3 linked regions of the Homo sapiens genome follow. The main gene of each other region encodes a partner of the protein of the gene in region 3 in a complex. Each region holds a gene or a part of one and is shown on either strand. Other genes may lie near its edges.

Region 1 (3,752 bases), on a different chromosome or scaffold from region 3:
TGAAAGAGAGTATTACTGTTGCTCAGGCTGGAGTGCAGTGGCACGATCTCAGCTCACTGCAACCTCCACCTTTCTGGTTCAAGCCATTCTGGTGCCTCAGCCTCCCAAGTAGGATTATAGGCATACACCACCACGCCCAGCTAATTTTTGTATTTTTAGTAGAGACGAGGTTTCACCACATTGGCCAGGCTGGCCTCAAGCTTTGGCCTCAAGTGATCCACCCACCTTGGCCTCCCAAAGTGCTGGAATTACAGACGTGAGCCACTGTGCCTGGACTAAATTTTTTAGGTATTTGAATTTTTAAAAATTAGAATAGAGTTTTAGAACAGGTAAGATTAACCTATTAACTGACCGTTGATTCAATCTTTTTGTGTTGTGTTGTGTTTTATATTTGTAAATGGAAAAACGAAATGACAAATAATTATGAAAGAGGCATCCATTTGAATTAAAGATCCTGAAGAAGAGAGAACTATTATCCGGAGTTAATCCTTTAATAGTTTTCAGGACATAGTGATAATATAGAGCTTCATTTTGGAATATAAGCATGAATTATCTCTCCAGGGAATTTTTATGTGGCTCATATATGTATGATTTATTTGAATATTCACTGTAGTTACATACTCTTATGGCATTTTGAACTTACATGATTAGAAGAAGAAAGTTAATTAAAAAAGAGAAAAGCATTTTTTTTCTTTTAATTTAGAAAGGTGTTACAGAAGATGGCTGGAACTGCATTTCTTGCCCTAGTGACTTAACTGCCGAAGGAAAATGTCACTGTCCCATTGGCCATATTTTAGGTAAGAATTAGATTCCTTATAAAGAAGTAGTGATAAATCTTCATTCTTGTTTTTGTTTTTATTTGAAAAGGGCACTAATTTAAATAGTTAAGTGATTACTTAATATTTTTGCAGTGGCTCAAGCAATTCTCCTGCCTCAGCTTCCTGAGTAGCTGGGACTGCACACATAACACCACTGCAGCTGGCTAATTTTTAAATTTTTTGTAGAGACTGGGTCTCGTTATGTTGCTCAGCCTGGTCTTGAACTCCTGGCCTCGAGAGATCTTCCTGCCTCAGCCTCCTAAAGTGCTGGGATTATAGGCATCAGTCACTGTGTCCAGCCCTTAATAGTGTTTATAAAAATTATTTTTGTACAAATTAATGATACTTAAAACATCAGCAGGCATTGAGAAGAAAATACAAAGTTTTGTCTGAGTTTTTTAAAACTCTTAATATTGTAGGATTAGATGGTTATTTCCTTAACATAACATGACAAAATATGTCTCAACTCAAAAGCCAACTTGATACTTAATAGGGAAAAAGCGTAAGCATTCCTGTTAATGTCAGGACCTGGAAAAGGATGCAAACTATGCACTTAAGTAAGAGAAAAAAAATATTTATCATTGGAAAAGAAAAGGTAGGCCGTTGTTAATCCTAGCACTTTGGAAGGCTAAGGCAGGTGTATTGCTTGAGCTCAAGAGTTTGAGACCAGTCTGGGCAACATGGTGAAACCGCATCTCTACAAATAAAAAAAAAAATTATTTGGTTACGGTGGCATGCACCTGTAGTCCCAGCTACTCGAGAGGCAAAGGTGGGAAGATCGCTTGAGCCTGGAAGGTCAAGGCTACAGTGAGCTGAGATGGCGCCACTGCACTCCAGCCTGAGCGACAGGGTAAGACCCTGTCTCATGAAAAAAAAAAAAAAAAAAAGTAAAATATCATTGTTTACAGATGATTTGATTGTATGTTTAAAACACCCAACAGAATGACTAAAAATTATTATAAACAGTGATGGAAGAAAATACCTCATATACAGTAGCAACAAAAAAGAAAAAATAAGTAGGCATATCCTTTTTTTTAATTTTAATTTTTATTTTTGTTTTTTTTTTTTTGAGACAGAGTTTTCACTGTTGTTGCCCAGGCTAGAGTGCAATGGTGTGATCTTGGCTCACTGCAACCTCCCTCTCAGGTTCAAGCGATTCTCCTGCCTCAGCCTCCCGAGTAGTTGGGATTATAGGCATGTGCCACCACACCTGGCTAATTTTATATTTTTAGTGGCTAACAGGGTTTCTCCATGTTGGTCAGGCTGGTCTTGAACTTCCGACCTCAGGTGATCTGCCTGCCTCAGCCTCCCAAAGTGCTGGGATACAGGCTTGAGCCACCGCACCTGACCTTGGCATGTACTTTAGAAGGAATGTACAACATAATTGAAGAAATTTGTGAGTATTACTGAGGGATATGAAGGCAGGCTTTTAAGTGAAAATGCATTCTTTATTTTTGGATGGGAAGATTAAATATTAGAAAGATGCAACTCTTCTACCAGTCTGTATATTTTAAAGGACCCTAATAAATTCTATCAGGATATTATTTGTTTGTTTTGGGGTAATATACAAATAGAGTCTGAAGTTTAACAGGAAAGTTATATGAAAAGCTAAGAAAATTCTGGGAAGGGAAAGAAGGAACTACCCCATCAGATAATATGCATGTTATATAGCTACTATAATCACATATATGACAGGCTTATGGATACACAGACTGATTGATGGAACTTAAAACAGGCAATCAGAATAGATTCAATTCATATAGGAATTTGGTATGTGAAAAAAGTGGCATTTCATATAAGTGGGGATAAAACTGATTAATGATGCTGGGAAAACTGAGAAAACACCCAGGTTGGGTTTCTACCTTATTTCTGAGAAAATTAAACTCCAAATGAGTCAAATACTAAATATGAATATATGAAAGTTCTTAAAGAAAATGCAGGAAAAATTTGTATAGTTTTGGTTTAACAGGCCTAAGTATGACCAAAAATACTCAGTCACTTTGGAGGCCTAGGTGGGACGATTACTTGAGCCATGGAGTTCCTGACCAGCCTGGGCAATATAGAGAGACTCTGTGTCTACAAAAAAAAAAGAAAAAAAGAAAAACCACAGAAGAAAAAATTGGTAAATTTATAAAATGCCATAAAAATTATAATACCAAAAACCAAACTACAAACTAAAGAAAAATATTAATGCATACAATAGACAGAGGTCGAAGTTCTTCAATAAATGTAAAGCTCCTACAGATAAATAAAAGTAAGATGAATAACCCAATTTTTAAAATAGCCAAGAGTCATAAATAAAGTTCACATAGAAAAAAATATTTTAACGTGAGAAAAAAATGTTCAACTTTACTCAGAGTAAGAAAATGTACGTTAAAGCTAAAATGAGATTTTATTTTTAACCTACCAGATTTTATTATAAAATTTTTTCGACCGGGCACAGTGGCTCACGCTTGTAATCCAGCACTTTGGGAGGCCGAGGCAGGTGGATCACCTGAGTTCAGGAGTTCAAGACCAGCCTGACGAATGTAGTCGCTATTAAAAACTCAAAATTAGCCTGGCATGGTGGCACATGCCTGTAATCCCAGTTTCTTGGAGGCTGAGGCAGGAGAATTGCTTGAACCCAAGGAGGTGGAGGTTACAGTGAGCCAAGATCACGCCATTGCACTCCAGCCTGGGCAACAAGAGTGAAACTCCATCTCAAAATAAAAAAGAAACTTTTTCAACTTTGACAATGTATTTATAAGGATACAGGGAAATAGTTATTCGTGTATTAATGGGAAAAATTTTAAGTTGGTGCAACCTCTGTGGAAAGCAAATTTATGGTGTTTATCAAAATTAAAAATACAGATTATCTTTGCCTGGAAAGCTCTCATCTAGAAATTTCTCATTTGGATACACTTAACTGTATGCCTGAAGAAGTGTTGAATGTTT
Region 2 (3,752 bases), on a different chromosome or scaffold from region 3:
AATCATTAGAACATTAGCAGAAGTTTGAAACCAAGACTGTGAGAAGTCTTATAATGACATCCTAATTAACTCCCACGTTTTAATGAACTCGGAGGCTGACTGACTTTATTTGAATTCTCATTTTTCACGTTGGGATATTGAAGATTCCAGTGTACAACAGTCCCTGTATTCATGATAGATCTTCTATTTACTGGAGAACTAAGCCTGGGATTTTGTGGTATCGATGATTTTAATGGACTCCCTTTAATTAATGATGATATACCATAACATGCATCAGAATCACTTGGAGACCTTGTGAGAACAGTTTTCTAGGCCCCACCTCAGGGTTTCAGGTTCAGTAAGTCTCAGGTAGAACTTGTGAGCTTGCATTTCTTTCTTTTTTAAAATTATTTTTTAAATTTCTGTTTAGTTGGTTGACTTTAATTATCTGGCTAGTTTTTATTAATCTTTCTTAAACATATTTATTTCAATGTGAGGTATTAAAAATGTTTGGGGTATTTATTTATTTATTCAATAGAGGTGAGGTCTCATTTTGTTCCCCAGGCTGGTCTCCAACTCCTGGCCTCAAGCGATCCTCCTGCCTCAGCCTCCCAAAGTGCTGAGGTTACAGGCATGAGCCACCATGCCTGGCCTGAGTTTATGTTTCTAACAAGTCCTCAGTGATGCTGATGCTGCTGATTCTGGGGCTATACTTTGAGAACCATGGCTATTCAGTGAAGGAAAGAATAAATAGGAAACATAAAAATATTTTTATTATGTTATAATTTTTAAAAAGATGAACTTACAAATGTATGTTTATGAATTATTATATGTACAAATGTATATAAATCAAATGATGTTTCTCTTAGGCATCAAGTGAGAATGACTAGACATGTATTTTTATCATATCTGGAGGGTGTGCTTCAGATGGCCTGACTTAAATACCACCCACAACTTTCTGGGGGGTCTTCAAGGAGAAAAGCTGATCCCTGGAGCAGCTGAAATCAAGGAAGGGGCAAGGAAAGGCATCCGTGCCTGTGCCAGAAAGGTGGGACATGCTACCAGTGGACTGAAGGACTCATTGAGGTTACAGATAAGGGACTCAAATCAAAAGCCACACAGACAGCCACTGTGAAGAGCAGGCAGAGATTTGCAACTGGGATGCTTCTCCTACAGGGAGCTTTCCAGTGTGCTCCTGAGTGGCCAGTGCAGATGCATGAGGTAGGTGAATCATATGAAATCACCTAAAGTGGGCAAATGTCAGCAATTTCATGTGGTTCAACCTAATATTCATTTAGAGTTAATGATACTCCTGATGCTCGTGTAGGTCAGTAAGTGTACACTCCCCATGTCGTGCATGTGTGTGTGCATGTGCCCACGTGAACATGTGTATCAGATGTCAGCCTCATTTACGGTCGGAGCATCCACTCACCTGGGGCACTGGTCATTGGGTGTTACGCTTCCTGCCAGGCTTAGCTCCGGGACCAGCGTGGGCTCCCAAGGCCTCCTCCTGCTCTGGGCTGCTCTCTCCCTCACCTCCTGCTCTATCACTGCCCGATCAGTGGGCTCTGGAGGGCTGGGCTTCACAAGGTCCTCCTCGGGATACGGCTCTGCAATCTCATCACCGGGATGTTCTTCTGCTGCTTGTTTCCTTTTCTTCTTCTTGGCCCTCTGTTGAGTTAGAGGCAACATGATATCAAACAGGAATTTTGGAATTTCATTTAAGAGCACAGTCTTCATAGCCAGATGGACCTGGATACAAACCCCAGCCCCATTTCAACCAGAAGTGTGTAATCAGGCAGGTCACTAAGCCACCTGACCTCTCTGTGCCTCAGTTTTTTCATCTACAGAATGGAGCCCAGGAAATTTCTCCCAGGGCTGTTGAAATGAGACTGTTGAAATGCCTAAAAAGCATTTGTCATACAGCCTAGTCCCTGGAAAGAGCTTAAAAAATGGTAGGTATTCATGTGATCATTAATTTTGGTTTTCAAGGCGAAGTACACATCTTGAAATATTAAAATAAGGCATGTAAGCACAGTGAGCATTGCAGGCCCACCTGATCTATTATTTGTTGCCCTTGGACTCAGTTTTGTAGGGTCATGTGCATAAAGTTATATAATTTTCTGAAGGAAACTCAGAAGCATCAATCCCTACATTTAATGGAATAATGCATGTAAGATACTCAGCACAGTGCTGGACACATGCATTAGTGATTACTACATTATTACTTAAATAGGCACAGAGTGCTACCATAGCATTCTCTGTGGACACAGCTGGCTCTGGTATCAGTCAGCTGGGTGGCTTTTTAAGCAAATGCATTAGCCAGTCAATTCATTCATCCTTTTATCCCTTAGCCAGGGGACGGGGAAGAGACAGAGGGAGCCACAGGATACCCTAGTCTGCCAGTCTGGTTTCCCCACTCCTGTACTGGAGGCTGCCCTCCCAGACACTTCCTGGCCAGCCCTATTCCAGGCTGAGTGTTTGTTTACACACTTGCACTTTCCTCCAGGCCTTCCACTGTTGTAACGACGTTCTGTATTCTTCCATCTTCTGTGCGTACTCCTCCGTGTGCTCTTCTAACAGTTCACTTATTTCAGCTTGAATTTCTGCTTCATATGCTTCTTCATCTGCTTTCTGGTCAGCTTTTTCCCTTTAAAATAATTTGTAGTCCCTTGGTTATTTCTGGAAATTAAGTAAGAGAGCAATAATAACAGCAAATACTTATATTGGACTTGCTATGTGCCAGTTCCTCTTCTAAAAATGTCGCACATGTAAACTCACAATCCTGTGAGGCAGATGCTATTATTATCCACATCGTATACATGAGATGACAGAGGCACATAGAAGTTAAGTAAGTTCCCAAGAACACACAGCTGGTGAGTGGAAGGGCTGAATATGAGCCCAACCCACTGAACACTGAGCAGCCATGCCTCTCTGTGTTAAATGATCTGTGTGGTGTGCTGACATGGGGCCTGTAAGTTCTCAGCTGATAGTGGTGGAAATTTCATTAGTTATTTTATGACTTCTTCAAGTCTCTGAGGAACTGCTTCATTTTGTTGCTACTGAGTCCCTGAAACCACTTTTTAAAAAATTTTAATTTTAATTTTTTAAAATTATACTTTAAGTTCTAGGGTACATGTGCACAACATGCAGGTTTGATACATAGGTATACATGTGCCATGTTGGTTTACTGCATGCATCAACCCATCATCTACATTAGGTATTTCTCCTAATGCTATCCCTCCCCCAACCCTCCCACCCCCGACAGGCCCTGGTGTGTGATGTTCCCCGCCCTGTGTCCACGTGTTCTCATTGTTCAATTCCCACCTGTGAGTGAGAACATGCGGTGTTTGGTTTTCTGTCCTTGTGATAGTTTGCTGAGAATGATGGTGAAACCACTTTTTTGACTTTGGATGGAGGATTTGGGTTTTTCTTTGATGATTTTGCTTATACTCCACCAGGAGATCAGCCCAGTTCAAACCACCGTTTCCCACAGTGTGTTCTGTAGGACATTAGTTCTGTGAGATGTACCACCAGGAAAAGATATTGTGGCCATATTAACACTGGATTAAATAAGTGTGAAAGGTTCCTTGCTGGTCATCTTTTCAGAGCCCTTAACATGTTGATGAACAGCATGGCTCTCCTGGTAGATGGCGGCAAATGTGTGGTGACTTCATCCATCCCACCCAGCACTTTGGAGATGGTGCCGAATACTGACTGCACTATTTCCCCCAAGGCAGTTAAGCTTCGTAATCCATTTTACATAAACTTAG
Region 3 (3,752 bases):
TAGGATATACAGATCCAGTCTATGATAGTCAACCTAGGTTATGTACTTTTCTTGTTAATCAAGTTACAGATACCAGCTTGTCTCATAAGGAGTGGAAATATTCTCTGGACAACACTTACCAAAAAACAGGCGAATTACTTCAATTCCAAGATAAAGGAGGAGCATCACCACATCCAGTACTAGGTTAGCTGTTGGATATGGTAGCAGGACACCTGCCAATACAAAAGCCAGAGTTTGCAAACAGCATATAACAGCACCCACAAGAACTGCCACACACTTGGGAAAAAAGAGGACATCAGTCTCAGCTTTCCATGAACTAGTTAGTGAGATGTGGGCATTATTACAGCAGCAGGATACATAAACTCACAATGCGACTCAGGCTCATTATTATGGTGTTTTACTCCTAACTCCAAAAGTCTCTGGGGACTCCACTCTCCAAAATGATTGGATGTACATGGGTACACAGGCCACTGAATAGTTTCTAAGGGTCACCAGTGGGCTTACAGTGGAGCTCAGCAAAGAGCAGTGATGTGGGCAGAGTCAGAATGGAGAAGCCCACATTTCTCAAACTCAAGAAATTCTTGCTGAGGGGCTGCCTATGGAATCATACTCAAAGAAGCCATCTGATGAGGAGGCCTGCCTTGCAGCGACAAAGAACTGCAGGGGGCAGAAAAGAACGGAAAATAAGAAGGTTCTTGGTAGGAATTGGCTCTGAGCTGAAGTGGGGAAGGGATGCTGTCGTCAAGCCCCAAGCCTTCCTTACCTTTATACAGAAATATGAAAAGTTCCAGCAGGAAATAGGTAGCATTATACCACCCGTTCAGAAAGAACAGGATTTCCAGCGGGGTGGAGGACAACCGTTTACCTGAAAAAGGAGCACAGAGAAGTGGGATGGGCCGGAAGGCAGCTCCCTCTCTGCTCGTATGGGTTGGTGTCTAACTTTGGGGAAACTAGACGCTGCAACTAATGGGACCGGCCACTCAGGGGCACTTCTGGTTGCTGATAATGAGGGGGCGAGGGTACGGGGGTGGGAGTGGAGGGGGCTTCCCTCCTTTCCTAGGAATCACCGTGAAACTCGACTCTTCGGCTTCAGGAATAAAAGTCAAGAGGTAACTCGCAGCTGACAGACATCTCAAAGATCTCACTCTGTCACTATTTGGGAGGGGAAGTTGGGGCGCAGAGACCAACAGATTCGCACCTGAGCCAGCCTAGAAGTGGCCCAGCCAAGGATCTGCGTTTATTTGAGCTGTGCACCTTGAGACCTTCAGGCACCCAGGGTGGGCGGGACCGCGGAAGCCGGCTTTGGACCAGGGAGGCGCGACGTCCCTAACGCTAGAGAATGGAGGGTTTAGGTCAAGCTCTGGGACAGAGGTGGGAGGGAGCGACCGAAGGGAAAGGGACCAGCGACTCACACACCTCCGGAATCTCACCTCGCGGCGCCATCTTCAGTCCCCGTGGCAGCATACGCTGCCACAGCGGCTCCCGGAGCAGCGCGGCGCTGCCGGAAACAGGGACGAAGCGGCCTGGGTTTCCGGCCCCTCTGCCCGCCCGCGGCACTCTGTGGTCACCCGGAGCTGGACGAGCTCGGGCCTGGCCGCAAGTGGCCCTCGCTCGGATGTCCCCTCTCCAGACCTAAGGGATAACGGTGACCACCCACGACGCCGTCGTCTGCAGGACCTCAGGGGTGCGGGGGAGGACCTTGGAGGCTCTCAGACTACCGGGCGTTGGGCGGAAGTGGCCAGTTGTGATAGTGTTACCAGGAGATTGGCAAATAGGTCCTACTCCCACGATTCTCTTTTTTCAACGGAAGACAAGAAAAGGTGTGAGCGACGGATCTCTGCAAATGCAGGGTGGAGTTAGCATTGGTCTTTTCTGCGGCCGATTTACCTACCAGGTAGAGACACGAAGGAAATAGAGCGTCCTTTCCAGGAACACACATAAATAAAATGAAACGAGTCACCACGCGATCCATAAAGTGGTGCAGTGGGAGCTGAGAGGACAAAGTGCTCCCAGGTGGAAATCTAAGTTAGTTTCCAAGAGACGGCCTGTGAGCTGGGCTTCAAAGCCTGCCTGATCCGGATTTGCAGCGGTAAAAGCGTGTTGCTGGCCGGGCTTAGTGGCTCACGCCTGTAATCCCAGCACTTTGGGAGGCCGAGGTGATGGATCACCTGAGGTCAGGAGTTCGAAATCAGCCTGGCCAACATGGCGAAACCCCGTCTCTACTAAAAATACAAAAATTAGCCGGGCGTACTGGCGCGCGCCAGTAGTTACAGCTACTTGGGAGGCTGAGGTAGGAGAATCGCTCGAACCCGGGAGGCGGAGGTTGCAGTGAGCTGAGATCGCGCCACCGCACTCCAGCCTGGGCGACAGTGAGACTCTGTCTCAAAAAAAAAAAAAAACAGAAAACTGTGTTGCTGCAGGCAGGGGAGTGCAAAAAGAAGGGTTTTGAGAGGACTCAGGTTGACTTGACTTGGCTGTTAGCCCGTTGTCAATCAGGGTAAAGCAGGAAACAGATGGCACGCTCCAACCAGGTAGCCTGAGGAAGGTGACTAAGCTTTATTTTATTTATTTCATTTTATTTTTGAGACGGAGTTTTGCTCTTGTAACCCAGGCTGGAGTGCAATGGCGCTATCTCTGGTCACTGCAACCTCCGCCTCCTGGGTTCAAGCGATTCTCCAGTCTCAGCCTCCCAAGTAGCGGGGATTACAGGTGCCCCCCACCACACCCGGCTAAATATTTTTGCATTTTTAGTAGAGACGGGGTTTCACCATGTTGGCCAGGCTGGTCTGGAACTCCTGACCTCAGGTGACCCGCCCCCCCCCCCCCCCCCCCCCCCCCCCCCCGCCTCCCAAAGTGCTGGGATTACAGGTGTGATTAATGCCCCCGGCCAAGAGTGACTAAGCTTTAAGCAAAGTGCTGTACCCCTGGCTAATTGGGATGTGGTGGGGCGGTAATTGTTACTTCTAGGCTTAAAAGGGAAGGGCCTGAAACAATTCCCTGAAGCTGGAGAGTAATATGTGCATAGAAGGCCTCCCACTAGGAACCCTCACACTCTAGGAGGCTAGTGGATAAATATAGCAGGGACCTCCATTTCCCTTCTCCCATCTCTGATCTCTGCTTATGTCTCCCGCTGACACAACTTAACTGCAAGCTGGAGGGCAAGGAAGCCCTTTAGGGTAAGTAGGAAAGCGCAGAGCACAGAGGTTAAGGTGGAAAGGAATCCAGATCCTGCTTCCCCATCTTCGCTGCCTGCAAGACAAGAGACATTAGAAAAGTTCCTGCTCTGAGCCTGATATGGAAAGAAAGTGGGCCAGCTGCACCTGGCGCGGTGGCTCACACCTGTAATCCCAGCACTTTGGGAGGCTGAGGCGGGTGGATCACTTGAGGTCAGGAATTCAAGACCAGCCTGACCAACATGGTGAAACCCCATCTCTACTAAAAATACAAAATTAGCCGGGCATGATGGCACATGCCTCTAATCCCAGCTACTTGGGGGGCTGAGGCATAAGAATCGCTTGAACCTGGGAGGCGGAGGTTGCAGTGAGCTGAGACCAAGCCATTGCACTCCAGCCTGGGCAACAAGAGTGAAACTATGTCTCAAAAGAAAAACAAAGAAAGTGGGCCAGCTGCTTGTTTTTGTAAATAAAAGTTCTTTGGAGAACGTCATCATGGTCACTTACTTACATGTTATTATATATTGCAGCTTTCATGCTATTATGGCAATGTTAAGTAGTTGCAACAGAGACCACATG

What was found.
Region 1: TMEM216 (region 3) and TMEM67 share a complex: the UniProt entries of both Homo sapiens proteins name them as parts of the tectonic-like complex.
Region 2: TMEM216 (region 3) and CC2D2A share a complex: the UniProt entries of both Homo sapiens proteins name them as parts of the tectonic-like complex.

Annotation. Positions count from the first base shown.
Region 1 is NC_000008.11:93,757,780-93,761,531, forward strand, and holds part of TMEM67 (meckelin isoform 1 precursor), read left to right. Parts: intron 1-703; coding exon 704-797; intron 798-2,080; coding exon of another isoform or gene 2,081-2,214; intron 2,215-3,752. UniProt on the Homo sapiens protein: Required for ciliary structure and function. Part of the tectonic-like complex which is required for tissue-specific ciliogenesis and may regulate ciliary membrane composition.
Region 2 is NC_000004.12:15,535,797-15,539,548, reverse strand, and holds part of CC2D2A (coiled-coil and C2 domain-containing protein 2A), read right to left. Parts: intron 2,630-3,752; coding exon 2,473-2,629; intron 1,651-2,472; coding exon 1,412-1,650; intron 1-1,411. UniProt on the Homo sapiens protein: Component of the tectonic-like complex, a complex localized at the transition zone of primary cilia and acting as a barrier that prevents diffusion of transmembrane proteins between the cilia and plasma membranes.
Region 3 is NC_000011.10:61,390,344-61,394,095, reverse strand, and holds the start of TMEM216 (transmembrane protein 216), read right to left. Parts: upstream 1,510-3,752; 5' UTR 1,465-1,509; coding exon 1,431-1,464; exon of another isoform or gene 1,417-1,430; intron 866-1,416; coding exon 764-865; intron 213-763; coding exon 120-212; intron 1-119. UniProt on the Homo sapiens protein: Part of the tectonic-like complex which is required for tissue-specific ciliogenesis and may regulate ciliary membrane composition.